Regions from separate parts of the Homo sapiens genome. Here all the other regions are linked to region 3. The links come from fine-mapping of genetic effects on gene expression. A gene starts in region 3. Each other region holds a variant in brackets. All regions are shown on one strand. Distances are between the middles of the regions.

Evidence for each region.
Region 1: its variant is fine-mapped to the expression of PHYHIPL in gastroesophageal junction (GTEx, PIP above 0.99).
Region 2: its variant is fine-mapped to the expression of PHYHIPL in pancreas (GTEx, PIP 0.97).

What each region holds. Positions count from the first base shown.
Region 1 is chr10:58,977,215-58,987,908 of GRCh38, forward strand. No RefSeq gene overlaps it. Among named protein-coding and RNA genes, the nearest start is that of LINC00844, 17 kb to the right of the region's middle. The variant A/G (reference allele first, on the strand shown) is at 4,413.
Region 2 is chr10:58,996,722-59,007,005 of GRCh38, forward strand. It overlaps LINC00844 (long intergenic non-protein coding RNA 844), which reads left to right and starts at 2,797. Exons shown (of 2, transcript NR_108046.1): 1 at 2,797-3,066; 2 at 4,508-4,896. The variant G/A (reference allele first, on the strand shown) is at 5,487.
Region 3 is chr10:59,169,075-59,179,767 of GRCh38, forward strand. It overlaps PHYHIPL (phytanoyl-CoA 2-hydroxylase interacting protein like), which reads left to right and starts at 7,569. Exons shown (of 5, transcript NM_032439.4): 1 at 7,569-7,885. The coding sequence starts at 7,780. It overlaps CCEPR (cervical carcinoma expressed PCNA regulatory lncRNA), which reads right to left and starts at 7,390. Exons shown (of 1, transcript NR_131782.1): 1 at 4,889-7,390.

The DNA.
Region 1 (10,694 bases), 190 kb before region 3:
CCAGAGGTGAAAGATGAGGGGAAATGGGAAGATATTAGTCAAAAAGTACAAAGTTAGTATGTAGGATGCATAAGTTCTAGAGAGCTAATGTATTGCATAGGGAGTATAGTTAGTATTGTATTCTAGAAATTTGCAAAGAAAGTAGATTTTAAGTGTTCTTACTACACACATAAAATGTTAATTAGCTTGACTGCAGTAATTTCCTATGTATATGTATTAATATATCAAAACATCACAATTTACACCTTAAAAATACAATTTTAATAAAAATTTTTTAAAAAAATAACTTGTTTATTCAACAAATACTTATTAAGCACCTATCATATGTGTTCAGGCGCTGCTTTATTTTATTATTTATTAATTTTTTTGAGGGAGGGTCTCGCTCTGTTGCCAAGGATGGAGTGTAATGGTGCACTCGCTGCTCACTGCAGCCTTGACTTCCTGGGCTCAAGCAATCCTCTTCCTGAGTAGCTGGGACTAAAGGCATGTATCATGTGCATAGCTTTTTTTTTTTTTTTTTTTTTTTTTTTTTTTTTTTTTTGGTAGAGATAGCTGTTGTCATGTTGCTGGGGCTGGTCTCAAGCTCCTGGGCTCAAGTGATCCTCCCACCTTGGCCTCCCAAAGGGTTAGGATTATAGGTATAAGCCACCATGCCTGGCCTCTAGACTGTTTTGAATATTGTGCTAGGAGAACAGCCATGAACAAGACGGACAAAATTTTTGCCATTGCTGAGCCTACATATTAGTGGAGGAAGGTAGGAAATAAACAAATACATGTATATTAATTTCAGGTAGCAATAAATGCTGTGAACAAAATAAGCAGGTTAAGGAGATAAAGAGTGATATGGAGTGGAATTATCTTACACAGGGTGAGCAGGGAAGATGTCTCTGAGGAGGAGGCCATAATCACAGAATTTTAAATGAAATAAAGGAGTGAGTCAGGTGAGTGACCGATGGAAAGAATTAGCAAATCAGCCATGATTTGGTAGATTGTTTTGTTTTTCTGGGAATTTTCCATTACCTATAAAATTATATCAGTGGATGCAAATTTATTTGGCTAGAAGTAAAGTTGATCTTGAATGTGAGATTAGGGCTAGAGGAAAAAGGAAACCAGGGTTTGCTGAGCACTTACTATGTGCCGGGGCTATACTCCCTGCTTTAAACAGGTTTGTTATGTCCTCTAATGCAGCAGTCCCCAACCTTTCTGGCACCAGAGACTGGTTTTGTGGAAGACGATTTTTCCACAGACTGGGAGGCGGGGATGGTTTCAGGATGAAACTGTTTCATCTCAGATGATCAGGCATTATTAGTTAGAGTCGCATAAGGAGCGGGCAACCTCGATCCCTCGCATGCGCAGTTCACAATGCGGGGGGGTGGGGGGGTGGGGGGGGGGACGCACTCCTGTGAGAATCCAATGCTGCCACTGATCTGACGGGAGGTGGAGCTCAGGCGGTAATTCCGCAGGCCTGCCGCTCACTTCCTGCTGTGCGACCTGGATCCTAATGGGCCACGGACAGGTACCAGTTCATGGCCCGGGATTTGGGGACCCCTGCTTTGATGAACCAACCAATCACGCTGTCATTTCTCATAACAGCCCAATGAAGTTATTACTCTCCCAATGGGAAAACTGAGCCTTGAGAATTTTCAGCAACTTACCCCAAGATAGTTAGAGGCTGAAATGAAATTTTCCACCTATCTCTGGTAAGCTCTCCAGATAGTGCCAAAACACAACAGGACTATGTCCTGAAAAAGCAGTTCCCTTGCCCTTCATTAAATCTTTAAAAGGTATTAGCCCTCGTGTGGTCACTGAGGATGTATCCAAAAGCTCGAAACCTAAATTCTTCACCTACAACAAGCGTGGATTTCACCAACCTGAACTTGACCTTAACTTATAAGCAGAGAACTGCCCATACCTAGATTCACCCAGGGGAGATCTGGGATGCAGGCTTGATATTTTACCAACATTTCAGTTCCAGTATTCAGGGGCTCAAAGAATTTCAGCTCTTCTGCTTTGTGGGGAGCTTTCAGATCAGTTAGTGATTTTTTGAATGTGTAGTTTAATGGCAGATTGACAACATATGGGTTTTTGGCCACTTGTAGGAGGCATAACTACAAAGAAATATCACCTTTTAAAAGCTGTTCTTAATCCAGGTGCAGTGGCATGTGCTTGCAGTCCTGGCTGCTCAGGAGGCCAAGGTGGGAGGATTCCTTGATTCCAAGAGTTTGAGCTCAGCCTGGGCAATATAGAAAAATTATTGTTTAAACAAACTTACAAGGACATAATTGTAAAAAAGAGGGAGGGTCAACTAAGGAAACTATACTTATTTAAGATGCTGAAATATTTTGTTAAGAAAGGGCATTACTTGAGACACTTCTATGTGCTGTTAAACCTTTTATATTTAATCTATGAGGTGGGTAATTTTATTCCCTGTACACAGATGAGAAATCCGAGACTTAGAAGTATTTTAAGTCACTTAACATTAGCCATCTAGCAAACTTAGATTTCAGCCCATCTGTCCAGATGTGCCAAAGCCTGTGTTATTTCAACTAAAGTGATTATCTCCGTTAGAATTTACTTTCAGAATTGGCAGCATGTTCATTCAAGTAACTCCACTGGTAGCAGCTGATCATCCAAGGTAGATTTAATATTGGAGAGTCAAGTTCATTTGAAGTCAAGACCGAGTGGATGATCACATTGCATGATGTCATTTTGTTACTTTGACTAGAAAAAAAAATGAGAGAGAAAGTCAGAACGACCTCTCATTCATCCTGCTTTCCTGTAGCCACAAATATTTTGTTTTACACAGTCAATCAGTGGGGTTGTTTTTAATGTAAAATTATTTGTTGAAATGTAACACAGTGATCTATCACCAATGACCTATACTAGCATTAACTTATTGGGCAGATTTTTCTGTTAGTGAGGAGAATCTGGAAAGAATAGGATACAGGACAGATGAGTTTTGTTGGTGGGGTTAGGATGCAGGAAGGTCAAGATTTAAGGGACTACTTGTGGGAGGGAGAATGGGGGTCCTGGGGGCTGGGGTGTGAGGGTGAAGAATAGAGAGGCTGGGGGTGGGGCAGAGGTTGAGAAGATTGGGGAGTGGAAGTGGGCAGTGTGGCAGCAATAGAAACCTGAGATACAGGATTAGACTCTGAAATGGTGCAGAAGGGGAGAGAATAGGCATAGGAAGCCTGCTTAATAGTCTTAGGAAAGACAAGCACTCTGGGAGTAAAATATAATAAAATGTTACATAAAATTATACTTCCAGGAACCACTTAGTGACTTGGAAGAGGTCATAGTAACCTCGTTTGCCTCAGGGAGAGCTGAATATTTTTCTCACTCGATTCACCATGGAATTAACTCCAGCTAAAATATAAACCCCTCTGGTTTTTTTTGAAAACTTTAATCACCTCCCTTATTCAAATGGAGTTGTGGCTATTGTGAAATGATGACCTACCTTTAACCCTATCCATCACCAATTACCAGCAAAGGCAAAGTAATTAATAAATGTATGAATATGCTTTAATTTATTCAGGCTACTCAGCTTCATGAGATAGAGACATGAGAGCTTATCTGTTCAGTTAAATGTTTACTGAGAGCAAGTAAGTAAGTGTTAAATCACGGAATTTTAAAAACATACATGTGGAAACATGCATATCTTACCTTCAGTAGGGGATATTTCTCAGGATTGGAACTTCAATACCACAGCCACACTCATTTATGTATCTATTAAAAGCAGCACCAATTTTAATGAGGCACCTAGAATGTTATAAAATGCCCGTGTATAATTAATTCAAAATGCTCTGTGATTAAATCACATAATGACGCTTTGTGAGCATACATCAGCTTAATTGGGAGTAACGTAACTAAGAGATTGAGATCCAGAGTGCTGTAAATAAAAAAGCTGCTTGGGGCTCCTGCAGTGTAAATTTAGATCATCAGGAAATCTTGCAAAGGCCCCAAGGCTTGTTGTGGGTTAGCGGCCTCTCTCTGCTATGTGAAGACAACAGAAAGATTACTGAGTCTCCTAACTGGAAGGCCTGGTGCAGGTTTTGCGATTACTCCAGTATTTGCAGGGAGAGGACTTGTATGTCAGCTGACTCAGTACTCAATAAGCTCCTCTAGGTTTGCAGTGGAGGAATGGGTATAGCACAGTCAGAGGCCCCTTGAGGTTGAGACATTTCACTTTTCACTGTAGTGAAAAGAGTTCTGCATTTGAAGTATAACATATTTGACCTCAATAATTTTAGTTTCCTTATTTGTAAAATGGCCAAAATAAGACTTGCTTTGTAGAAGTTTTTGAGGATGGTCGGGGGTGGCGGGGGGGAACAACTCATGGAGTATCTGACACAGTGCCTGGCACATAGGAGGTATCAAATGCCATTGGTTTTCCCATGCCCCCAGCACAGAGT[A/G]TCCTGAACATTGTAAGAACAATAGATCATTGCTGATGTGACTGAAATGTGCCCATTGAGATGAATTCCCCAAAGGGGTGGCCTATATTTCTAGTCAAAGACTGAAGGAACAAATGAAACTGAAATCTGTATTAAGACACAGTCAGGCTATGGCAATGGAGAAAACTGGAAAAACATCACAAGGTCAATAGCAGTAGCAGCTCAACTACTGCTTTCCCATGAAGCGAACCCAAAACAGAGGACAGAAAAACAGACATGTGGCATTAGTTCTGCCATCTCTCCTTGTCATGCTCATGCACCATTACTAACTGATCACAGACGTCTGCCCTCTCTACTCAGATGGGTCCTCAGACCCCTAACACAGCGTTCAGGCAGGCATTCATAATCGGTTTAGCATTGGCACTCGTGACAATGCCTATTTACTATTCTTGACAGAAGAATGCAGCCCATGGCCTGCCTGACCCTATCAGTTGAATAACAAAAGGAGAACAATTACTCCCTCGTCTGTCACCTTTCTGAATCCATCCTAGAGTAAGAGAGAAAAGAGCTCTGTTCCTTTCTCTTTGTAGAGTGATTTTCAGTCTGTGGGTTATTCCTTACACTTGATATTTGGATACCACTTTATAGTTTAGATATATTTTAAGGAATACTTAATCCTGACAATGACCATGGGTGAGAGGTAGGTCACATATTACCCTCACTCTACATAGGAGAAAAACCAAAGCTCTGAGGAGCTAAAGAACTTAATCTAAGCTGAACTTATCCTGTAATTTGCATAGATGGAACTTGAAGATTGGAATGTTCATCTCCAAAATCTGGTAATTATTTGGATTACTCAGTAATTTGCTACAATTACTGAGTAGTCTCAGGGAGAAGACTATGAATAGTGAGCGTACACAAATGCATCATAGAGGAGACTTAGCAGGACCCTGTCCTAGGCGAGATACTACCAGCAATTGTACACAAGTGCAGCTTTGAGGGCACACCAAACAGTGGTAGCAGGAATCAGGCATAGGAAAGAGACCACTATGACTGGCATGGGAGGTGATGCAGGGAAGCTGGAGTGTATTAGGAAATGAGCAGGCCAGGAAGCTGGGCCCTCCAAGGGAACACTTCAAATGCCAGGCAAAACACATTACATCACTTTTTTCTTTATTGAGCTATAATCTGTGATTTTGTCTAAACCCTTTGTCTAAACCCTTCTTGTTCTGAGCTCCAACAATTTAGTTTGTCAAATAAGGTTACTGTCTAAATTTTTTTTGCCTTAGTCCTAAAAAAATACCTTTTAAGATTCAGGGTCTGAAAGAGAAACCTGATATTCTTAAATTGGCAAATATGTCTGTATCCTTTCCTCCTACTCCCCTTGTGACTTTCTATACTGCTTTATCTTGGGGCCATCCATTGATCTTTCCTAGAAAAGAGAATACTGAATACATATTTAACACACAAAAATCAATAAGGCTCATACATATGAATCTCAGCAAGTTAAATTTTATAATGGAAGAAAACATATTTTTGCAACCATCAAAGAAAAAACATGAAATAACTAAAAACTAGGCTTAAACAACAAATGTGCAAGATTTGTGTAAAGAACGTTTTTAAATGTTAATGAGAGATTCAAAATATGAATTGACCAAATGAAAACATACTTTATTTTTAGAAAGACTCATAAATATATCAGTTTTCCTTCATTTAATGTAGGCAGTTAATATAATTATAATTAAAAGAGTACCAGGATTTTTTTTTTTATTTTTTTGAGACAGAGTCTTGCTATGTGGCTCAGGCTGGAGTGCTGTGGCACTCTCTTAGCTCACTGCAACCTCTGCCTCTTAGGTTCAAGTGATTCTCCTGCCTCAGCCTCCTGAGTGGCTGAGACTACAGGCATGCACCACCACACCTGGCTAGTCTTTGTATTTATTAGTAGAGATGGAGTTTCACCATGTTGGCCAGGCTAGTCTTGAACTTCTGACCTCAGGATGGTCCATCCACCTCAGCCTCCCAAAGTGCTGGGATTACAGGCATGAGCCACAATGCCTCAAGAATTTTTTATTAGAGCTAGATAAACTGATAGAAAGCTCATATGTAAGAACTAGGAAGAAATAATGGCCAGGGAAAACTGTGAAATAGAAAAGTATTGAATGAGATATAATTGTATTGGATAATAAACTATGAAAAGATAGAAGTTAAAATAGTGTGGTACTGGCATATCAATAGACAGACAAATTAATGGGCTACAATTCAGTCCAGAAATACATCCAAATATATACATATTTAGTCTACAATAAAAGTGGCATTGCTGATCAGTGGCATAAAATGGATTGTTCAGTAAACATTTTTTAAAAAGTAGAGAAAGAAAAGGAAAGAAATCAGAGAAGTGCTAGAAGAAAACGTGTGTGTGTGTGTGTGTGGTGTGGTGTGTGTGTGTGTGTGTGTGTGTTTATGGAGAGAGAGAGAGAGAGAGAGTTTTCCTGTAACGCCCAGGCTGGTCTCAAACACTTGGGCTCAAGCCATCCTCCCGCCTCAGCCTCCTGAGTATCTGGAACTGCAGGCACCATACCACCATGTCTGGCTAATTTTTTTTTTTTTTTTTACAGATGGGATTTTGCTATGTTTCCCGGGCTGGTCTTGAACTGCTGGCTTCAAGCAGTCCTCCCATGTAGCTGGGACTATAGGCACAAGCCACTGTGCCCAGCTTATATACACTGTAGAGAGTGGAAAGCCTTGCTAACTATGACATAAAATCCAGTGATTATAAAAGCTATCAATACATTTATTTAAATAATGTTTTAATCTTCAGGAAAAAAATAACAAATAATGTTAAAATGGGCATCTAAGGAAAAGTATTCACATTATATATAAAAGAGAACAGACTCATTTTCCTAATTTATTAGATATAAGAAAATATAAGAAAAACTAAAAGTTCAGTAGAAAAATTGGAAAATAATGAAGAAATAATTCATAGGAAGATACAGAATTTTTAAACATATGAAAAAGTCCAGTCTCATTACAATAGAAATGGAAATTAAAACTCTAGTGATAGTTCATATCCACATATCAGAATGACAAGATAAAATAGTTTCATATTGCATTGCATTAGTGAGGATATGAGGAGTAGTCCATTTTAGACATCAGGGATGAGATAGTGAACAATAAAATTCTTTGGAAGATAATTTGCAATATTTTTCAAAATTATAAATGCATATTCCCTTTATCTCAAAGATTCTACTTCTAAGAGTTTGTCCTACACATATACTAGTGCATATGGATACAAAATATGTAGAAACATTCATTTCATGATTGTTTATAGTAGTAAAATATTTAAGCAACCTAAATGTTCATCAGTATAGTACTGGTTAATTAAACTTGGTATGTGCATATAATAAAATACTGTGTAGCTATTAAAATTTAAATGTAATGAGTTTTAAACATTAGCTTTGTTTTGAAAGCAAGGTCTCCTTTCTTCTAGGCAAAATCTCAAAAAGTTGTCAGGAGGATGGAAGGGACTATGAGTGGTGACTTCTCTCTCCAGTTAAATTCATTATAATAAAGAATAATTCAATAGAAGGATAATTCACTAAATTTTAGACAGGCAGAGTGAATAGATTGTGGCTGCCCTTTAATGTACATCACTGAAAGTGAAAAAGGGAGGACATAAAAGATAGTTTTTCAGAAAAGTATGTTACGGATAGGCATGTTTCTGGAAAATCTCTAAGGGGACACAAATGGAAAGTCCCTAGATTCAATTTGTGCAAGATGCTACGTGACTGTGACCCAGATGTAGAATGAGAGGGACTGCCTTGGTATGCTGTAGCAAAACATCAGATCCAGGACCCCAGGAAGTAGGTCTAGGGGCCATGGCTTACTGAGTAACACTTGCCTCACCTGCTGGCCTAAGATACTTCTGGGTGCTGATAAGAGTGGGAGGAGGGGCAGAAGTAAAAGTCTGGGAGCTCTTTTCAGGAGCTTCTTAGCTTTGGCCGATTCCTCACCCCTCACTACTGTCACCACCCTGGAAGCATCCCTGTGAGGAACAGAGAGGGGACACTGTGGATCCATATTTGTGCAGCTATATCTGTTGACTACACTAAGGATTCTCAACCCTGTCTGCCCATGGGGAATCACTTGGGTTAGTGATAAGATTTGCCAGTGTTTAGCCTCCTCCACCAAGTGGTTCTAATCTAAATGGTCGAGGGTGGGACCAGGCATCGATGTTTGTTAAATGTTTCCCCAAGTGATTCTACTGTGCAGCCAGGTCTGAGAAGCATGGGACTGTGCTCTTCTGATATCTTTTTATTTACTTGTTTTTAATACTCAATAATGTTTGTGAGTAGAAATGTTTGGTGTTTGTGAGTTTTAGTTCTGCTATTCCTCAAGCTCATTTCGGTCTCTCACAAGGCTTAAGATGGAGAAAGAGGCAAAGAGAGGGAGAGAGAATCATTGGAGGAAAAGTCTGAAACAGAATGAAAAATAAATGGGGAGATAAATTGAAAGGGAAATGCTGAATTCTTCACTTCAAACTCACTCCAGAATCTTTGAGCATAGGATCTAAAAGTTTGCAGTTTACACACTTCTCAGCTGAGTTTTATGCACACTTGAAGTTGGAAAGTTCTGATCTATTGGGAGATACATTAACAATACAATTAATGACAGAAAAAAAGGGATTGGTGCCAACTGGTGAAGGGTGATGGGACAGAGGGATCATTGTCAAGGAGATTCAGACTATGCAGAAGAATAGGCTGCTTGGATTTTGCACAAACAACCTATGAAATTGGGGGCTTTATGTGAAAATCAAAACCTAACTGCATCCACTTTTCAATGGCAAATGTACCTGAGTTGGGCATTTAGAATGAAATTTATCAGTGACACCAATCATTGGATTTAGAGTCCACCATAATCTGGTATGATTTCATCCTAATTTCATGAAATTTTCAAAGATCCTATTTCCAAAGGTTGAATTCACAGGTACCAAACTTAAGATTTTGTAGGGGCAGGAAAATGTGATAACTTTCCTCACCCATTATAAGGGTCATAGCTGACATTCCTTTAACAAAAGGCAGATTAACAACAAAAAAAATGCATAACAAATTCATTTAATCAAAGTTTTACACAACAAAAGAGACTTCTGAAATTATGACCAAAAGACCCAGGGAAAACTGTTTTTATGCTTAGTTTTGATGAAGAATGGACAGCCATGTAGAAATGTGATTGGGCAAAAGGGTATGATCTAATGGTAATAAACTGAGGTGGAGAACCTAGCAAGGCCCGTCCAGATTCTTCTCAGCCTCTCTGAATAGCATTCTCTTTCTACCCAGGTATGGGGCAGAACCCCTCTAGAATGAAAGTCTTCAAGGAAGAAAGGAGAAGAGAGAGACCTTTTTAGGTTTTATGGCTTGCTTTAGGAGAAAAGGGTTCCAGTTTTTATGACCCACCTTGGAGAAGAGAAATTCTAGTTTCTATGACTTGCTTCAGAGGTGAAAGAGAGGCTGTAAACAGGAGGGCAGGAGAAGGTCAGAGAGACCTTGCTTCTGAGGCCCTTCCAGTGTCCTAAAGTTTGAAGTACTCAGCATGCTGAAGTGCTATACTTCGGGTCTTCTTGTTCTGAGCTCCAACAACTTCAACATATCTGTGTGGGGGACACAATTCAACCTTTACTGACACTTTGTTCAAAGCTACCTTCGTTTTGCTTAAAGCTGTTTTTGCCCAGAAGACCAGCAGCAGCCACACCATCAAGACCCATTTTTTCCTACTTCTTCATTTACAGACCTATAAATGATTCTAGAGCTGTACTTCCACTTTGGCAAAAGTATAGCTAAGACAGAAGGGATGGTGACACAGCATCGCTTTCTCTATCACTAGACTGATATGCATTAAATTACACTGACAAGACAGATGCCCTGGGAGCAAAGGACCAGTGTGTAGAGAGAGAGAAAAACAAAAGTAGCAATCAAAGTACAGGTGAAGACAGTTCCTCATTTTAGAGCTTTTTCCTGCCCATATATTGGAATACTTATTTGACCATAAGAAGTTATTTGTCTTCACATCAGTTTGTTTTGTCCAAAGTACCTGAACATCAATGTAAGAAAGCACAGAATTCCAGAGAGACAGACAAAGTGGCCTCTTATGAACACTTTGATCTGTTTTTTTTTTTTCCTGTTAAATTGTTGTAAGAGAACTCCCCAAATCAAGTTTCAAGCTAATTGCTTTTAAGTCCTTGTAAATGCTCAAAACAAAGAAACATCTTTGCCGTTTGGTCAGTGACGAGGAATAGACTGAGTTCTTACT
Region 2 (10,284 bases), 170 kb before region 3:
TAGGTAGCAGATTTTATCTTCTTATGGGATATTTTTCCAGGAAGATTAAAAATACTCTGGGTAGTACCTAGTTCTGGGTGCTGAGAGGAGTAGTGACGGAATGTCAAGAGTGCCCCCATGTAGGCTTCTGGGTGAGGAGACAAGAAAGGAAGTGTGTGAGCATACAGTAACATACACACACAATCACACACTCACACAAATCAATTAAGCAGAGTGCAAGACAGGTACATTAACAATTACTAAACCCAGAACCTTAGACAATCAGTACTCCAGATGTTTACAGAAGTGAGAGAGCAGAGTAAGCTGGATCAGTGCTTTTCAAACTTGAAAGTGCAATCAAATTCCCTGGGGAGCTTGTTAGAATGCAGATTCTGATTTCGTAGATCTGGGGGTGGGGCCCGAGATTCTGTATTTCTAATAGGTTTCTGGTCTACTTTGTTTATTCATGCATTTATGAATTCACTATTGACTCTGTCATGTGCCATGTATTTTACTATAAAGGAGGAATAAAACAATGATGAAAATATAGCCTTTCTTTCAAAAAAGATAACAGACAGGTAAAGTAAAGATTAAAATACAGAATGGTAAGTGGTAGAAATATTCCCAGGGTTCTATCGGAGCCCAGAGGCATGAGATACAGATTGAATGCTTCATGACGACTGGATAGGAGTTTAAGGGCAGTTCAATAGCATGCCCTTCAATAGGATGGGAGTGTTCAATAGCATTTTTAAGATTGTCGTGATAGGACCAAAGCAAAGGGTCTGGGAAGAAGAGTGGAGAGAGAGAAAGAGCTGGACAGTGGTCAGCGGCCAAGTTGTAAAGATTCTTGTGTGCCAAGCCAAGGTGTTGACACAACATTCTGAAAGCTAAAGTGACCTGTGCAAGGAAATCCAGAGGGAGCTCAGAGGGTCCCATCTCAAGATGGTGTGTTCTCAGCCTTGATCTTTCTATAAGTGACTATACCAGCTCCTGTCTAGGACCTAAGCTCTTGACAATGTTTTACCTGATTGAGTGTCCACCTCTTTCTTCTACCCCAAACATGTGAGCCACATTTCTTCTACTCTATGGTTTTCTTTAGAAGAGGTTAGTAATGCACAATGAAACAAAACTAATTTGTCCAAAGCAGAGCCCTTCAGAAGTTAAGAGAAGTTCCAGCAACCTTGAGTATTCGAGTCTCCTGGTTTATTTAAAAAATAAAACAGGCCAGAATAAAGTGATGACATTTACAGAATATTTTAAATATTTTCATTAAATAAATGAAAACTTTTGTCACAGTAAGTATGTTGCAAGAGAGTGTTATTTTAAAGATAATTATCATTTTATAAACATTAAAGTACATTAGAACCAGAATGGGGCATAAGATTAATGCCTGCTTTTAATTCTGTATCTTCGTGGTTTTATATATATAACCTAATTTGAAAGCAAGAAAAGTGAAAAGGTGAAGACTTTTGTAAATGTGAGGCTGGCTGTAACCGTCTCTGCCCCTTTTCTCCCTCCCTACCTACCTAACAGTCCCTGATCTAGGAATTTTGGAGATTCTGTTTTTCTTTTCTAATTATTGGAGAAAGCACTACAATGCACAGAGCACTAGATTTCATAGAGAAAAGCAATTGAAGGGTAGGCAAGGTGACCAAGTACCAAATATCAGTGACTTTTAAAGACCACCTTGAGAGCCAAAGAACCCGCTGTGTTGCTCCAACCTGATGCCAACATGGACACATGCAGCAGAATGACAAAAACCACCGCAGAGGAAACAGGCATGTCAGCAAGTAAGAGACAGACTGGCGAGTCCTCTATTATCACCCCTCTTTTTTTTGTTGGCTTAGTGGAAGATTTCCTGATTTGAAAAGACAAGTTTATTTTTGAGACAATGAAACACAAATGAATGTGCAAAGAAAAGGCATATCTGGCTAGGCACGGTGGCTCACGCCTATAATTCCAGCACTTTGGGAGGCTGAGGTGGGCGGATTATGAGCTCAAGAGATCAAGACCATCCTGGCCAACATGGTGAAACCCCATCTTTACTAAAAATACAAAAATTAGCTGGGCGTGGTGGCGCATGCCTGTAGTCCCAGCTACTCATGAGGCTGAGGCAGGAGAATCACTTGAACCCGGGAGGCGGAGGTTGCATGCAATGAGCCGAGATTGCACCACTGTACTCCAGCCTGGCGACAGAACGAGACTCCGTCTCAAAAAAAAAAAAAAAAAAAAAAAAAAAAAAAAAAAAAGAAAAGAAAAAAGCATATCTGCCAGCCAAGAATCAGTTTTCAGCTTAAAACACAATAATACAGACCAAATTTAGCTCCTGTTCCCTGAACCAGTGGCAAAAGCAGCTAGTGCACGTGCCCAGGAAGCCACATGCAGCATGTTTATCCCACTATCCAGCTCTGTGGTGCTTTACTGGTTCTACACGTTAGGATTACAGATCCTTGTAGGAATAGCTTCTGCGCTTTAATGATTTCTTAAGAAAAAATAAAACAAGATCTAGATCATAGACTCCCATCAGAGAGCTTACTGGGAGAAAGAGCTGTATCGTGAATTATGAAGATTAAAGGGGCATCCAACAAGGGGAAAAATTAAACTATTATCTCGTTACTTTGGTAAATTAAAATTGCCAGGCCTAGGCAAAGATCTGACTGGCCAGAGTGAATTTTGGAGTGAAATTTTATGGTTATGTCTTTTAAAAGCCATGTAAATCAGCAAGCGTAAAGCTGACAGGACCTTGCAGGCTTCAGCAAGAACACACTGTCCCTCTCATTTATTTAAAAGAATGCTGCCCCTGCTCAAAGGCCTGCAGTGAGCCATGCCAATGTGGTTTGGCTGGACTGTGAGTGCTTGATGCAGTCTGATAGGAGGATGGGGGTGGCGCAGAGAACATTGAAATCAGAAAGGATTCTGCTCTGTAGAGACAAAGGAAACACAGAGACATAGACATGGATCTGGGAAATACACCTTTTGCTACTCGTTCAGTTTTAGCAAGGAGGTTTCTTGCATGGCTAAGCAAAACTTAAACTTCCTCTGAGAATTACAGGAATTACAGGACCTGACAAAGCTATGAAGATTAAAGTAAGTTAAATTGACTACTTTGACCAGTCTATGATTAAATGCCCTATATAGGATGTAGAGACAGGTGTCTGGTTCAGAAGAGGAAGGGAAGATTGGAAACTGGTTGGAGTAAGAACTGAGCCTGTGGACTATGAGAATGTCAGAGCAGAAAGGGCTTTAGAGTGAATCTGGATACCCTCATTTATATAGATGTGGCAATGGAAGGAGACCCCAGGTGATTTTCTTAGGGTCACACGGTGATACCTTGTTGTGATGAATATATACAGCTAGTAGAACTTTTGATTAATGTGAGTGCGGCAGATTTATTGCAACAGGGGCTCCAATTCTTTTCTTCTCTCTATCCAAGCACCATGGGATGTAACTTTGTAGCTCCTCCCATCAAGAAGTCTACTCAAGAGGTCTCATTGAGGTCTACTTCCTGTACCTCCAAACCTGGGTTGGCTTTGAGACTTGCTTTGGTTAGTAGAATGCAGCAGATGTGATGCTATGCAGTCCCAGGCCTACGCCTCAAAAGCTGTGCTTGCTTCTGCTCCTTCTCTTGACCTTTGCCTCTATTAGCCCTGACTAGCCTGCTGAAGGGACAGAGACCACAGGCACAGAGCTGAGGTGTGCCAGCTGAGGCCATCTGAAACATGGGAGAGAGAGATGGCTATGGTCAAAGAAATGCTCAGCCAGGCCTGACCAAGATCAACAGAACCCACCAGCTAACTGTGAATGTGAGAACAGTAAGAATGGCTGCTGTTTTAAGCCTCTTAAGTTTTGGAGGTGGTTGTTTGCAACATTCTTGTGGCAACACTTGGCTAGTCAGTGGTGCTATAATGAGAGGTTGGTCACTGAGAGGAGAAAGAGGGAGCAGGATAATCCCTGGCATGGTAGGTCTTGCAGTTTCCATCATGGAGTATGGTGGCCAATTTAAGAAAGAAACTGTCCTGGAAACAGATCCCAGAAAAATCTCCTCACTGTGATTGTGGCATTGTGCTGTCTAAATGCCAGACAATCCTGAAGGGTTTGTATCATCACTTCCTAAATTAGAAATGATCCTAGGGCTCTTCCAATTCTGATTTTATAGAAAAGGAAGCAGAGGCTGCGCAGTGTTAAGGCAAGACTAGCTGCTTAAGTTAATGGGCCCAACACAAAACAAAACTGTGGAGTCCCTTGTTAAAAAATTACTAAGATGGTGACAGCAGGGCCTTAAACTAAGCACAAAGCCCTTTTAAGTATGGGACTCTGTGAGACCGCACAGATCTTATGCCCATGAAGCTGACCCAGATTTAGGCAATTTGTCCAAGGACATCACTTCGGAAGATTCATCCATCAGGCTATTCTTTACCCAAAAATGTAACTTGGTATATTTGTTAACTGCTAGTTCAAGAAGCAGGGCAGGAACCTAAGGCCTCTAGTTCCCACTCCAGTGATTCTTCTTTTTTTTTGTTTTTGACAGACCTATAGGAAGAAAATCTGAACCAGAAACAGTATGGCAGAATTGGGATCTGACTCACAGAGGGAAGAACTTATAATTCTTCACAGGTCACATAGAAGCATGAGAATTTGGGTTCAAGCAAGTAAATTCTAAATCAGAATCCATACATAAAGTGTTTGCAATGTCCAGTTATATCTCCATGATATTTTCTTTGTGGAAGTTGATTGTTCTTCCTTACAATAAATTGCTTGAATTGTCTGTCTATTCATTTAGCTATTTCTTTTCTTGTCTTTGCGATATTTTTTTTTGTAAGTAAAAAATTTTCAGACTAAATAACAGGGTGTAATTTTTTGCTTTGTTTCTCCTAAGTTTTGTCTTGTTTATGACATTAATAATTTTCTAAAATCTCTGATTTCTTTTCTGTAGAATGCTTGAAAAATGACAGCTCAATATGCACATTACCCCATCCCTAACCACCTTCGTCACTACTTTGAATACTCTTCTCTCACCCGACACTGCAGTTAAATATGATTGGAATCCTTGTTTCTATAGTAAACCAGTCTACTTTATTTTATGGATGATTAATTTAAAAAATTAAACTCTGGGCTTCCTTCAGGTTTTCTAAGGTTTTTCCCACTGGCTTATAATGGAAAATTCAAAAAGGGCCTCTCAGGTAACAGAGACAAGTTTGTAGATTTAAAAAAAAATTCCTTTAGAAAAGACAAGGTTTCTGTGACCTCCTTTTTGTGAGACAATGAAAGTGACAAGACAAGATCTTAAATAATAAAGTTAAAGCCATCAGTAAAGGCAAAAGTCAAAGATGTGAAACATCTGTGAGAACACACGTAAAAGCTAGTGGGGATATCTCGAGGAACAGAGCTCAGTTTTGCATCAAAGTTCAGGCCAACTGAACACCAAGGCTTGATGGCAGCCAGAGTCTTGCTGTGTAGAGTCTGGTTGCTTTCTGAATGGACACGGATTCTTGCTTTGAAGATTACTT[G/A]TTAACTCACCAAACACACCCAGCCCAGCTACCTGCATCATTCCTTTGTCAAGGTTCCCACCTACCTGGCCCAGCTGCAGGTGAAGGCCAGATTCTCAGGGTATTTTACCCATCCCCACTTCTTCTCTTTTAAAAATCACTATTCTGAATTTACAGTTGGCCAATGACCTCTAACTGGATTAATAAAATGTCTAATTTAGTTTGGAACATTGAGCTTCTGTTTCACTTTGGCTTGTTCAGGTTTTTATTAAATCAGAATAAATTTTCATAGTCCCCATGGAAATGCCAGCCTTCTCCATTAAGTTGGCAAAACATTTCCATTTCCAAAGAAGTATTAAAACCTGTTTCCGGCCAGGCATGGTGGCTCACGCCTGTAATCCCAGCACTTTGGAAGGCCAAGGCGGGCAGATCACAAGGTCAGGATATCAAGACCATCCTGGCCAACACGGTGAAACCCCATCTCTACTAAAAATACAAAAAATTAGCTAGGCATGGTGGCACGTGCCTGTAATCCCAGCTACTAGGGAGGCCGAGGCAGGAGAATCGCTTGAACCAGGGAGGCAGAGGTTGCAGTTAGCCAAGATTACAGCACTGCACTCCAGCCTGGCGACAGAACGAGACTCTGTCTCAAACCACCACCCCACCCCACCCCCCCAAAAAAAACCCCTGTTTCCAGAGAAGGTCCTGTATTGGTCAGGACTGGTCAAATAAACATGGGTCATAATAATCATGACGTCCTGTCCTGGTTTTTATCTTTTGGGTATGGTTTGTCTTTTGCTACTTGGTGTTTCTACCCAATCTATTTCATATCTGTTTCCCGCGTTTCTCTTGTATATTTCAGCCCAAACACCAAAGCTGTGATCCATTTTTAGTTTCCAAGGTCACATTGGCACAGAAATCTTTCTGCAGGCATCCCTTGAGGAAAACACCAAACTACAACTTTCTGCCCTTAAGCTAAAGGCTGTATAAGCCTCTAGCTTCTTGCCTTCTGTTCAGCTGGGGATTTTTCTCTTCCTTTTTTATTCACTCTTTTTCCATTTCCTTCTCTTGGCACCAGGTACCCCAGATTCCTTTCTCTTGCTCTCTCCTGCTTTCTTTCATTTGACCCTGAAAGCCAAAATGCTGATAAGCTCCCTTCCTTTGCCTCATTAAAAAATTGCCATAAAATTTATAGCTGACTTAGGCCAACCATCGCTGATCTTCTTGATTTAGTTACTGCCAAGAAGTGTTTTATGATCATCCACTGACTTATTTACAACAAACCCAATGAAGTCCTTGGTATTAGGAGCCTGTATAGATATTACTTGTTTGGAAAATAGGGTGGGTACTTAGGTACTTGAATTTCTCTGTGTAGGCTGGGGTGGTTTGGGTTGTTTTGCTTATGCATTTCATATGGAAAGGCATAATCCCAAGCCTTCATATGTAATAACATGGACTCATTGTGCTGCTGTGTGGCAAATGTATACAGCCCTGAGACAGCACAGGAAATTTTCCAATACTTCTCTAAGCATTAGTTTCAGGAGGCCATTTGTGAGGCTGGTAAGAGAAAACAAATTGTGTTGGTCATAATAAAATTGTCCGTTGGTGGAAACTGTTTGAATACCTCAACGTAATGAGGTTAATTGATTATACAAAAGTGATTTAGAGGCTGATGTAATAACCACCTGTTTTGAGTCTGCTATTTGAAAGACGGGTCAGGGCAGGAATAAATTAAATGTTTGCAACATTTGAATTGTGTTGATTGTTCAGTTGTGTATTTAGAATATGTGAAAGGGATCTGTTCCCCCTGTAATCCCTGATGCTGTTGTTGGTCACAACATAAATTTAAGGTGTTCAATAGTACCAAAGCTCTTTAACGGGTGAGGCTTTGTCCTGAGTAAAACAGTGTAATTACCTGGAACAGATCCATAAAGAAGAGTTGTAATGCATGTTTCCAAAGAGAAATCCTGACTGTATTTTTTGGAAAGTGAACCCTAAAACAATGGTGCCAGGAATTACTCGAACACTTCATTGTCATAGAAGAAATCTGATGTCTGAGGAACAGTTGTAATAATCTGCCTTCTCTGTTTGCTTCCCCCAACCTGGCTAAGGATTGACTTAGGGTCTGGGGTGGTGGCAATAAAGATTAAGTGTCTGCAACTGCACTACTGATTACTATATGTTCCTTTGCTGAGGCCACTGCTATTTTCTAAAGAGTTGCTAGTGGAGAAGAGCCTGGTGATGAAGGTAGAAAAATAAAGACTCACTTCTTTAAGTTTAAAGTGTACTTCACCCAATAAATACAGAAGCCAGAAAAAGGAGTGATCATAGCAGGCAAATCTGACACAGCACTGTTAGAGAAGTGCCACTTGGTAAGTCAGGAACTGTGGTTGCATAAACTATGTATAAACCGAGGCCCCACATGACCTAGCCTCTACATAATGCTCCATGAAAAAGCACAGTCAAGAAACCAGTCATTACAACTGAAACCTGCTCTTTACTTTGATCTCTTAAAGATTGTGATAGTAGATCCATTTATAATCCATGGTAAAACACCTTTCAAAACTTTTTTTTTTTTTTTTTTAGAGACAGGGTCTCACTCTGTTGCCCAGGCTGGAGTGCAGTGGCATGATCATAGCTCACTGCAACTGCAAACTCTTGGCTTCAAGCAATCCTCCCACCTCAGCCTCTGAAAGTGCTGAGATTACAGGCATGTGCCACCATGCCCTGGCTCCCAAACTGCCTTTGCTTCCTTTCTTGTTTCTCAGACTCCAAAGCTGCTCCAGAGACTCTCACATGCCAAATCCTAAAACACTTTCTCACAGAACATGTGGCCCATGTGGGCTTTTGTTCTTCACCCAACTTCTTCAGTTTGCAGGTCTACTCTACCTGGCTGTTTTTGTTTGGTTTTGCTTTGTTTTTTCTGTCCTTTTGTTTGTTTTCTTTAACGTGGTCTGCCTATTCTTACAAAAAGCTTAGGAATTAGTTTGGCAAAATTCTCTTAGAGGGCAAGGCAGGGACAAATGAAGAATCTGAGTAGATAAAGACAAAGTCCTCTTATTAGGGGGAGTTGGGTCAGGAGTCTCAAATTACTGCCATGTTAAGATGTTTTGTCCCTTAATACTGTCACAATTAATAGTAAAAGTCAACATTTATTAGTAGTTAATATGTTGCATTCATTTTTCTAAGTGTTTTTACATAAATTATGTCATAACTAATTTTATCTCGCAAATTTGTAATATCACCATATGAATAAGGAAAGTGTAGTTTACAGAAGTTGAGTGATTTGCCCAAGGTTACAGGGCTGGATAATGGCAGAAGTAGGACTTCCCAGCCTCAGTCTCCTTCCAAAGCCCACTTTTATTTTATTTTATTTTATTTTTTTTGAGACAGTCTTCCTCTGTCACCCAGGCTGGAGTGCAATGGCACGATCTTGGCTTACTGCAACCTCTGCCCCCCTGGTTTAAGAAATTCTCCTGCCTCAGCCACCTGAGTAGCTGGGATTACAGGTTTGCACCACCACACCTGGTTAATTTTTGTATTTTTAGTAGAGACGGGGCTTCAGCATGTTGGCCAGGCTGGTCTCAAACTCCTGGCCTCAAGCAATCCTCCCGCCCCCACCTCCCGAAGTGCTGGGATTACAGGTGTGAGCCACTGTGCCCGACCTCAAAGACCACATTCTTAATCATCATAACTTTTAGGTATCAGCATTCTCCAGTGGCTGAGGTTACACTGAGAATAAAGTGATCATTGAAACACACTAATACTGTTCAGATATAAGAAATATAATTGTCTCTATCCTTTCATAATACTTTCTTTTTACATAATTTTTCAGCTAAATGTACCATTTTTGACCCATATCTGTAATGACATACGGATTACCAAATGTTAGACACTTGTCTACAAATTAGTACTGAAATTTTCCAACTATAAATGCTTGTGATTTGGAGGGGAAATTCAATTTTTAAATTTCTCTCTCTTTTTTTTTTATTATTTACTGTTTTGCACACAAAAGATCAGAGGAAATTCTATGGTTCACAGTTATAATTTTGAGACTGTTTCTTCATCTCCACTCTGTCTCATCTGTGAAGCTGGAGGGAGGAAGGATTTAGGAGAGAGATTAGGAGCTCGTCAGAGCATGACAGTCATGAGTGGTACCCAGAGTGTGGGAATGACCTCTAAACACAGTTGCCAGCTCTACTGTCAAAAATATCACCTCAAAAAATTATCTTTGCATAAATTTCTACTTTTTGAACAAATTTCCCTTTTGGTATAAATGTTTCCTGCTATCTTTGTATCCTGATTGAAAGTGAAATGCTATGCCTCTGAGGAGATTCATCATTACCCTTTGGAAGATAGGCCCTAAATCACACTTCCCACTTTTCTCTTTTTGGCATATGCCTTCAACCTGGAGTGTATGTCTTGAGTCACTTTCGTTTTCAGCATCTGGAAGCTGTGTTAAGTCACCATCTTCAAGTCTCCTGACTCATAAATCACGTGTCAACTCCCTTGGCTGCTGGTCAGTTCAATTTCTGTTAAAATTTGAGCTTGAGTTAGTTATTTGAAGGACATGGAAACAGAGCAAAAAAAAGAGGCAGAATGCAGGGCTGTGACCTAACATCTGGAGACCTTGGCCTTCTGGGTTAAAACAAACACTGGAGCTACAAAAGAATCATTCTGTCACCTGACCCCAATTCCTTGACCTTGTTACAGAAAAGGTTTATGTAATTATTGCAAGACATCTACATATCCCTACATAGATGGAAAACAATAATACATCTTATACATACATATACTATTCATTTTTCACATGTAAGTA
Region 3 (10,693 bases):
GGGATCATTTTAAATTTTAAAAAATATTTTGACTGATAAAAATTACATGTATTTAGGATATACCTTTGGGTATATACCCAACAGAGGGATTGTTGGATCATGTATTATATTTTTAATTTTTGGAGGAACCCTCATACTGTTTTCTACAATGGCTGTACTAATTCACATTCTCACCAACAATGTGCAGGGTTTTCTTTGCTCCACAGCCTCTCCAACACTCGTTATCTTTTGTCTTGTCAATTAATAGCTCTTTTAACAGGTGTGAGGTAATATATTATGGTTTTAATTTAGATTTTTCTGACATTTAGTGATTTTGAGCATTTTTCATATACCTGTTGAACATTGGTACGTCTTCTTTTGACAAATGTCTATTTAAATCGGGCTGTTTTCATAAATCGGGACTGTTTCCAATTGAGTTGTTTGCGTTTGTTATATATTTTGGTTAGTAGCCCCTTTTAGGACGTATGGTCTGCAAACAATTTTTCCCCATTCCATAGGTTGTCTCTTCATTCTGTTTATTGTTTTCTTGGCTCTGCAGAAGCCTTTTAGTTTAATGTAATTTCATTTGTCTATTTTTGCTTTTGCTGTTTGTGTCTTTGGGTTTATGCCCCACCCCCCCCCGCAATTACCAATGTCATGAAGCTTTTCCCGTTTCCTCCTATTAGTTTTATAGTTTCAGGTATTTAAGTATTTAACTCATTTTTAGTTGATTTTTCTATGGTGTGAAATAAAGGTCTAATTTCATTTTTCCACATGTGGATATCCAGTTACCCCAAAACCATTTATTGAGGAGACTGTCCTTTCCTTATTGTGTGTTCTTGGCACCTTTGTCAAAAATCAGTTGACTAAATACATGGATTTATTTTGGGTCTCTATTCTGTTCCACTGGTCTATGTGTCCATTTAATGCCAGTAACATGCTGCTTTAATTACTCTAACTTTGTAATATAGTTTGAAATCAGGAACTGTGATGCCTCTGGCTTCGCTGTTGCTCAAGACTACTTTAGCTCTTCAGTTTGTGTGTGTGTGTGTGTGTGGTTTCATGTACATTTTAGGATTGTTTTTTCTATTTCTGTGAAACGCCTTTGGAATTTTGATAGAGATTGCATTGAGTCTGTAGGTTGCTTTGGACAGTGTGGATATTTTAACACTATTAATCTTTCCAATCTATCAAGGTGGGATATCTTTCCATTTACTTGTGTATTTTACAATTTGTTTCATCAATATTTTACAGTTTTCATTGTACAGATCTTTCATATCATCGGTTTAACTTACTTTAGGTATTTTATTCTTTTTGATGCTATTGTAAATGGAATTGTTTTCTTGATTTTCAAAAAGTTTGCTGTTTTGTTGCTGTTGTATAAAAACACCACTGATTTTTGTATGCCAACTTTGTATCCTGCACCTTTACTGAATTTTTAAGTTCTAAGAGTTTTTTGGTGGAGTCTTTATGATTTTCCATATATAAGATCATGTCATCTGCAAACAGAGATAATTTTTCTTCCTTTCCTATTTGCATGCCTTTTTTCATTTTCTTGCCTAATTGTTCTGGCTAGGATTTCCAGTAATATGTTGAATAGAAGTGGTGGGAATGGGCATTCTTATTTTATTCTTGATCTTAGAAGAAAAGCTTTCAATATTTTTTTTTTTTTTTGCGACGGAGTCTCGTTCTGTTGCCCAGGCTAGAGTGCAGTGGCGTGATCTCAGCTCACTGCAAGCTTCGCCTTCTGGGTTCAGGAGCCATTCTCCTGCCTCAGCCTCCTGAGTAGCTGGGACTACAGGCGTCCACCACCACGTCCAGCTAATTTTTTGTATTTTTAGTAGAGACGGGGTTTCACCGTGTTAGCCAGGATGGTCTCGATCTCCTGGCCTTGTGATCCACCCACCTCAGCCTCCCAAAGTGCTGGGATTACAGGCATGAACCACCAAAAGCTTTCAATTTTTCACGATTAAGCATGATATTAGCTATGGGCTTGCCATACATAGTCTTTACTGTGTTGAGATGCATTCCTTCAATGCCTAATTTGTTAACGGTTTTTATCTTGAAAAGATGTTAAACATTGTTGACTTCCTTTTCTGCATTTACTGATATGATCATATGGTTTTTGTCCTATAGTCTGTTAATATGGTATATCATATTTATTTATTTGTATGTTAAATCATCCTTGTGTTTTAAAATCCTCAATACATTAAACCATAAAGATAGTCTAAATATGAAAGTTCTCAGTTTTTAAGAAGTTATGAAACTATTTCCATAAATTTGTACTGTAAAATTAACCAAATATGCTTTCTTAATGTCGTTTTGGTGTCCTACAGTAATAATATCCTAACTTTTGGGGGTGCTTTATAGTTCGTAATAATACTTTTATATGCATTATGTTACTTGATCTTCACAAGTCCCAATACTTCTTGAGTCAGGACAAACAATTTAGAATATTTGGATTGCTTTCAACTGTGTTTCTATTGATTATGAGTTTTCCTTTGCCCTTCCATTTACAATAGGGCTTAGGAAAAGTTTCCATAGTGTTATGAGAGGAAATAAGATGCACTCATTTATTATGCATTTTGTGGAGTTTGTTTCTGTTTGGTTTTGGTTCTTGGCACCCTCTGCGAGTCATAAAATCCTTAGTTGTGCCAGGGGTTGTGGGTCATTTTATTATGAATAAGATAGACCTATGGACTAGCCTACCAAAAGGACTGTGTAGCCTACTTTGATAAAATCCTAGGCTAGCTGGAGCAATATAACTAAATACATTCGAAGTATCGGAGTTCACTAAAATAATTCAGCAAATTGTCCTAAGTATCTTCTCTTTGCAAATACTATAATATGTGCTTAAAATCTACAGTATCACAGGAGAAATAAGAAATGTTCACAGAAGTGATACAGGATTTTTATGTCTTTGCAAGCTCAGAATATGTGAGCAGAGCGATATTATTGTCAAAAAAACTAATGGGCTCCTGGGCTGCATTACAAGATGTCTGGCACACACAACAAAGATGGTGTTACTCTACTGTGCTTTCTTTTATATTCTTATTATATTTCCACACCTGGTGTGTTTACCTATGGACTCAGAAAAATTGGAGTTATCTAGAAGAGAGTGTGTAGAGTGACAGAGGGACTCAAAACAATGGGATATCACAAACATTTGCAAAAACCGTGAGTATTTAGGCAGATATTTGAATATATATGTATAATAGGAAGGATTATTATTCTGTATCACGAACAAATCGGAAAATTAAGGCCTTTGTAGTGCTCTTATAGGAGATATGTTTGGGCTCAGAATGCGAAAGACTTTGGATAACTTCATGAGGATTTTAATTTAATATTTATTAGGAGATAAATAACTTCTTGTCAAGGGCTTTGACATTGGATAAGGTATTGAATTAGATATATTTAAGTCCCTAAAATTTGATTCTGATTCTTCATGTACATTAATAACTTATAAATCATAACATGATGTCTGTAACAGAACTATAAAGCCCCACAGAAATACAACATAAAGGTTTTTGACAGAGGGAATCATTTCAAAAGAATGTAGCATACGAGTTGGGGCTCGGATGATTGGTAGGATTTTGATTGTAATAGCAGACATCTCAAGCTAATGATTAAGTGATGTTGAGTGTATGGGGATTGCAACTACACTGCAATTTAGGTACAAAAAGGTAGAATTTTCATTTTGTCTAAACTGATTCGATCATCTTCATGAAATCTCAGTCACTGACAAACGGGAGGGGAAATAATGTGTTTTTATTCTAACCCAGAAACCTGGGTTCATTCAGTATTTTAAGCAGTTCCTTAAAGTTCAAGTTTATTACGTTAAGACCCTCAGTCTCTAAGATTTCCACCTTTCCCCTACATCCTATTTTAGATAGTATCTGGAAATATCAGATATCCCTAGATACCATTACCTGAGGCATTGGGACAAAGGGTCATTTGGTTTGAACAGGTTCTTCTGCCTCCTCTGGTCTCTGAGGTGACATTCCTCATATGTCTAGTTGCTTCTGGTCTTTCACTTGAAGTTGGTAGCTAGAGAAACTCATGGTCTGTGCTTCAGGGCCTTGCGGCCATCTCTGACGGACGGGTCTCAACTCTTTGGTACTTTAGACATCCCTGGTCTAGAAGGTCCACTCCATAGCCTTTGCTAAAGTGTCACCTTGCTCTTTTAACAAAAAACTTCAGGGAAGATTGGATAGCTCTCAACTCAACCACGTTCTGAGTACTGTTGGAGCCAAGAGAACACTTCCGCTTAGCCCTCTGAAGGTTAGGTGAAAATTACTGACAAGAGGCAGATGAAGAGGAGAAAAGGCATACAAATTTATTTGATCATAGCTTTACATGAAATTTGAACACCACATTTCCAACATAAGCCTTCAGAATGAAGACCAAAGACACAGGGAAAATTGACCATTTTAATCCTTAGGTTCAACAAGGTATGAACAGTCATGAAGAAATATGACTGGACAAAAGGGATATGACCTAATACTAATAGATTGAGTAGGGAAACCCAGAAAGGCCTGTCTGTCTAGATTCTTCTTGACCTGTCTGAGCATGCACTTCTTCCTTTTGGCTATGTGGCAGGGCCCTCTCTGGAATGAGGATCTTATGACCTTCAGTTAAACAAGGTAGGTAAGATAATTTCTTTATGGCCAGTTTTTACACAGAAAAGCAGAAGAAAAATTAGAGTAATATTTTCAGATTTTATGGCTGGCTTTGGGGAAAAGGAATTGTGGTTTCTATAACCCACGTTGGGGAACAGGGATTCTAGTTTCTTATAGCTAGCCTCAGGGGAAAATGAGACTGAGAGGCTGAAGGTCAGAAGATGAGAGGAAAAACTTTTACTTCTGAGGTTTTTTTTTTTTTTTTTTTTTTTTTTTTTTTTTTTTTTTGGGGAGGAGGGGAGTATTGTTTTCTGAGTCTCAACAGTACATAGAAACTTACAGCACTCTGGAAAGTCAATGCCTACCCTGTCTCCGCCCTGTTCAAGGTTACTGGAATGTGGTTCCTGCTCAGCCTGATATCTTCCCAGATATCTGAGAATTGGGAAAGTAATTTCTCTGTCCTTGAGTTTTCCCACACCAATCTGGATATTTCTAAAGCCACAACCCCTCACCCTACATCTTCAGGGTGGGAACAGTAAAAATGTTTCTGGTGTCTTTCTTGAGCTCTTCTACCCCTTTCCCGTAATTCTCCAAGCCAAAGAGAATAGGATTTTCTTCTACTTTACCTACTTCATAGCCACCACCTTCCTTATATCAATCTCTGACTAAATCCTTCATACTGGACTAAGATACCTTGTCTTTACTATGGGAGAAACCCTATCATTTGGTCCACCAGGCCTAGCCTTGATATGTTGAACCATAAACAAATTTACATTTTATGTCTTGACAATGCCTCGATTTGAAGCCTAAAAACTCGATTTAAAAAATCCTATATTTAATATCGAAAGTTAAAAAGTAAATATTTCTTTTGTATTTTTTATACAAGAATCCAAATCCTCAGCAGAAAGGTGCCTTGGATTGATTAAGTTGTATACCCAGAAAGTGACATTAATACACTTCTTGAAACATTACCCTTTCCGATTACACAAATATTCTAGCCGACAAATCTGATCATGCTAATTTCCTATTTAAAGCCTTTTTAATAATTTCTCATTCCCTTAAGATAAAATCATTTTGGAGATCTTCCTGACCATCTAACCTAGGTTATAAACCTCGTGCGTGCTTCTACAAGCTCCCATACTTCCTCTTTCTTAACACCCATCCTACTTTTACTTTTTCAATATATATCTTTCTTGATAAATTTGAACTCCAAATTTTCAACACATAGCACAGTGTCCTGGACATAGGTGCTTCATAAATATTTGCATGAGTTTGAATTAAATGCATGTCGTATTTCTTACTTGAAAATCAGTAAATTGTTATTCTAGTTTACACAGTTCCTTTTTTTTGAGATTTATAAATTTGAGACTACTCTAAAAAATGAACCCACTGTTGGGCTTACAATACCAATTTCTAGTTCTACAGAGCCAGGCTTTCGAACACAGAAAATTCACCAGTAAGTACTTTCTTGTCATATCCTTTGACAGGTAATAATTTACCCTCTCCTTGGGGACACCCCTACCTTAAGACAAGAATTCTTTCAAACTTCAAAAACATCCATCTTCATTAATAAGTTCATAATGAAGACTTTTCACTTTAAGATGCCTAATTATCTTTCACAGATATTTATGAAATTTCAATTGTGCCAAGATTTTTCACAGGCTTATTTTACTTTAAGCTGGTCCTTCCATTTATTGAAGCTTCAATTAATTAGACTTCATCATGTTATAGCTAAATGGATGTGACTAGAAAGAGCAGCATACAGACATCTATGTGTAAACTGTTACTTGTTGGTTAACATTTATGTTTGAAATGGAAAATCAATAAAAGGGAACTTATATTAATTTATAAGCACATTAAGAAAAGAGGGGACACTATTTTTGATCCCAAGATAGCAACAAAACTAAAAACTTTTCCAAAGAAGCAAACGGGAACAGAGGTCAATAGGCTGTGACCTCTATTTTATGTTTAAAACGTTTGCACATCCACTAAGTGCACTGCAGAATCTTAAATGCAATTAAAATCAATGGGCATACAAGTTATAGAGTAGCTTGAGGAAGCACAAGTCAATCTTCATTAGCTATTGTAGCAAAGATTCCTTCCAAATCCATGGGAGCAGGTGCTGTTTATACTCCCTTCATTGACGCCCAGAACAATGGCATAGGGTGAGCATTGAATACTTATTTGCTACGCGCATGAATGAATGAAGCTACGCTGCGAAGGCAGACTGCGTGGCTGCTGGTCCCGTGGCTGCTGGCCCCGCAGCATGTCTGCCGCCTTTTCAGCAGGCTTGCTGCATCTCCTCATTCCCTCACCTTTCTGGCAGTAAGGAGTTCCCACGTTTGCCCCGCTTCAGTGTCGTGGACTGGCAAAATGCTGTCTCTAAACCCCTCCACGCCTCAGGTAATCCGCTCATTTCTCACACAGACGCAGCTGTTTCCGAGGAATGTCCGGCCGAGCCCGCAGGGTGCGGGCAGCGAGTATCCTGGGACCTTCAGGGGAGGAGGTGGCTCCCACACCCCAATACCGTACAGAGAGTCCGAAGAGTCCGGGCCCTTATTTTTCCAATTCTTGGTAAACAACAAACATGCTCGCCCTCGCCTCCCCGTGCAGACGCCTCAGGGCCAACTCGGGCTTCGCCAGGCACCGAGAGCAGACAGAAGACGCCAAATGGCTATCACCAGGAGAGAGGGCGAGGCAGCCGCGCGGCGTATAGCGCTCGCCCTTCCCGCGCGCTCGGTCGCCCGACGCCTCACGCGCGAGGTTGCCTTGGCAGTGGCTGGAGGGCAGGTGGGGGCGCGTGCGCGCAGAAGGGCGGGGGAGGGACCACCGCGCGCCAGCAGGTGGGCGCGTTCTCCCGCGCGCGTGCGCGCGTCGAAGCCCTATACATCACGTTCCCCGAGAGCAGCGTCCCCTCCCCGCCGGGAGCGCGCGCCTCCCATCCTCGCGCCGGGTCCTGCTCGGTCTCTCAGAGCCGCACACTCCGCGGAGCTCCTGCCACAGCCGTCGCCTTCGCGGCGGCTCTCCAGCCCCGCGCCTCAGCCTCGGCGCCGCATCACCGCGTCCCAGGCCTCCTTCCCTCCCTCTGCCACTCCCCCTCCCTTTCCCGCTCTTCTTGCCCACCCGGCCGGCAGAGAGAGCCTGGATACGAAGCAGGCGGGCTTCAGAGTGGGTTGGAAAAATGGAGGTGCCGCGCCTGGATCATGCCCTCAACAGCCCCACCAGCCCCTGTGAGGAGGTGATCAAAAACCTCAGCCTGGAGGCCATTCAGCTGTGCGACCGGGACGGTAAGAGCGGCCGGGACCGCGAGGAAAGGGACAGAGTTCGCGCCGAGGCGCCGGGGCCACTCTGGCTCCGCCGACGCCGCTCGCCAGGGCGGCAGGGTCTTTTGTTGTCCCCTCTGTGCAAATAAATGCAGATGTGGGTTACCCTCCGCCCACCGCCCTCCCCTCACCCCAGAAACAAAAGGACCCCGGGGCTCGCGCCTTGGCGCGGAAAGTAGCCGTCCACAACCGTGGCGCCCTTCGCCGCCTTCGCCCGCCTGGCCCGGACGAGGGCGACGTTCCCGCTCGCGGCTCCTGCCCCGACGAGGCGTTTCCGATCTTTGCCGCAGTCCGGATTTCCTGGGTCTCTGGGCACTGAAGGGGAAATGCCCTCGGGATGTTTCTAGCAACCCCCTTCCCCCAACACACACACACTAGTTGGCATTCTCTTCCAGAAACTTATCATTTTCTTTTTTAAACCTCCCATCCTCAGACTCCCCAAATTAACAAGTCTTTTTAGCCTCTTGGATTGGGATTAGGATGACAGTTTTTCAGTGAGGGCGCAGAAAAACAGTGCATTTCAGCACCAAGGACAGACACAATCTTCATGGTTCCTGGGCTCTGAGTCAGACTGTCGAAAATATTGGCCTAATATATGTGCTGTGATTCAGACTTTGTGGCGAGTACGTACCATTGCGTGTTGATATTATATCGTTTATTCTGTTGTTGAAGTTGGCAGGCTCCTGTGGAAGGAAATTGATTGAATACAGGTCTGAGCGTTGAAGACATAAGCTAGTGCTGTGTGCGGTGTGGTTAGTTACAGTGCTTCTGGGTTAGCTGGACTAGTTAGAGTCTGCTACTTTAGTAATGTGGTACAAAACTTCATTTGTAAAGAAATCATTTGATTAGTAATTGGTTGGCCGAATAATTGTAAAATTCTACATCTGACAAAGGAAACACAGTTCACATGTTGTTAAGAGGGCCCCAAATACTTTTGACTGTAAATGAAATTAATGTTTAACTGTATATAGAGGTAATGATTGTAAAACATGTCTTTAACCAAAGTTATGTACAGATACTAATACGCTCACAGTAAGGTCATAAAATTTATCAGCCTAATCCAAATAGGGAGCAGAGGTCTTGTTTCCAAAGTCATTTAAATGGTAATCACTTGGTTACGCATTGCTATTCAGCACGTTTATATCAAGCAAGCACCGAATTTGTTTATTACTAAATTTTATATTTATTAATATAAATTTATATTTAATAATTTTGAAACCAGAATTCAAACTTTTTGAAACCAAAACCACTTTAATTTCTGATACAGGTGTAGTATATGAATAAATAAATACGTTTGCAAAGACAGCTTGTATTTCCTTTATTCTTAGACTGTTTTAGTCACCATGGTAGTAAGTGCACATATTTATGGTATCTAAAAACATTTATCATTTTGGTATTCCATATGTAAGCTTGCATGATTATAGACTGTAAAGATTATTTTTAATAACGCATAGGAAGTCATTTGGATTTTAGTTTAGACTTTTATGAAATGACTTTTTGTAATGTAACCATTGCAAGTTGTAAATATTTTTATTTTCTTAGGGTTGAGAGAAACACAAGACTAATAAAAGTAGACTTCATTTTTATTTATTGCAATGATAAAGCAAAAGCTCATTCTTGTACTCAATGGAATTAGGCATTCATTGTTGCTCTTCAGAACCCAGTAATCTCAATACTTAAAACCGCATTTACCACGTGTTTCAAAGATATTAGGGAAAATTTAAACTTTTTAATGAAGTTCACAGAGTTAAGAGAGTGCAAAAAATAATGCTGTATTTACTGTGATCCCCTAGAGGAGTAGCTATTTTATTCTGGTATTATTTTTTAGTTGTTTCTTTTCAAATTAGGAATCCCACAAAATGAACAAATTATGTAACATTTAATTTTGGGGAGGGTGCTGGCACTAAGTAACATCTATGAAAATTACTATTTGCAGACTTCCAAGTAATTTACATAGACTAATTAAATAGGGTTTTATTTTATAAAATAGTATACACCAACAAATACAAAGAGCTAACTCTTCTACTAGAAGATGTATAAAATTTGGAAATACTTTGTTTAGAGATGTTGTTAAATGCTTAACTTATTTTGTTATCCTATCTTACATGTCAATTCCAAAAATATTAACTTGGTTGGCTTCAAAGGGATAATTTAGGGGGAATAATGTCGTTTGTTTTTAATAGAACAGCATATGAAATGTTGCATTAAATTTGTCAAACAGACCTTACTTAGCATCATTTTGTATTGAGAGATTTTCAGCTAGTTGCTTTTTACTCCCTTTGCTTCCCTCCTTTCACTTTCTTTCCACTCAAGTCTCGTTATTTTACTTCTGTAACTATGTAACATAGAAAAGGATGTGGCAGAATATGGGACAGAAGATCTATTTTGTGTTTAAGTACCTAATAAGAGCTATATTTCATAATTTATGATAGAATACATTTATTTTGTTTGCTCTTTTCTCACTTTCTTTTAATCTACTGTTAATTTGGTGATGAAAAAAAATGAGAGAAACATTAATTCCCTGGAAGTGGAATAAAATAGAATAGGGGAAAGTATAGTTATGTTCTCCAATCAGAGATATTTTTAATTTTATAATGTTTTCATACTGTATCAACCAAGAGTTATGCCTGCTGGTGAACATAACTGTATATCTCTCTTATGTTTCATTGGATTTTTTTGTTTTTGTTTTTGTCTGTCACTTGCCTATTTTCCTATGAATTGATGATTACATTATAAACAATAATTCAATTTTTTTCATAGTTTCTAAAAATA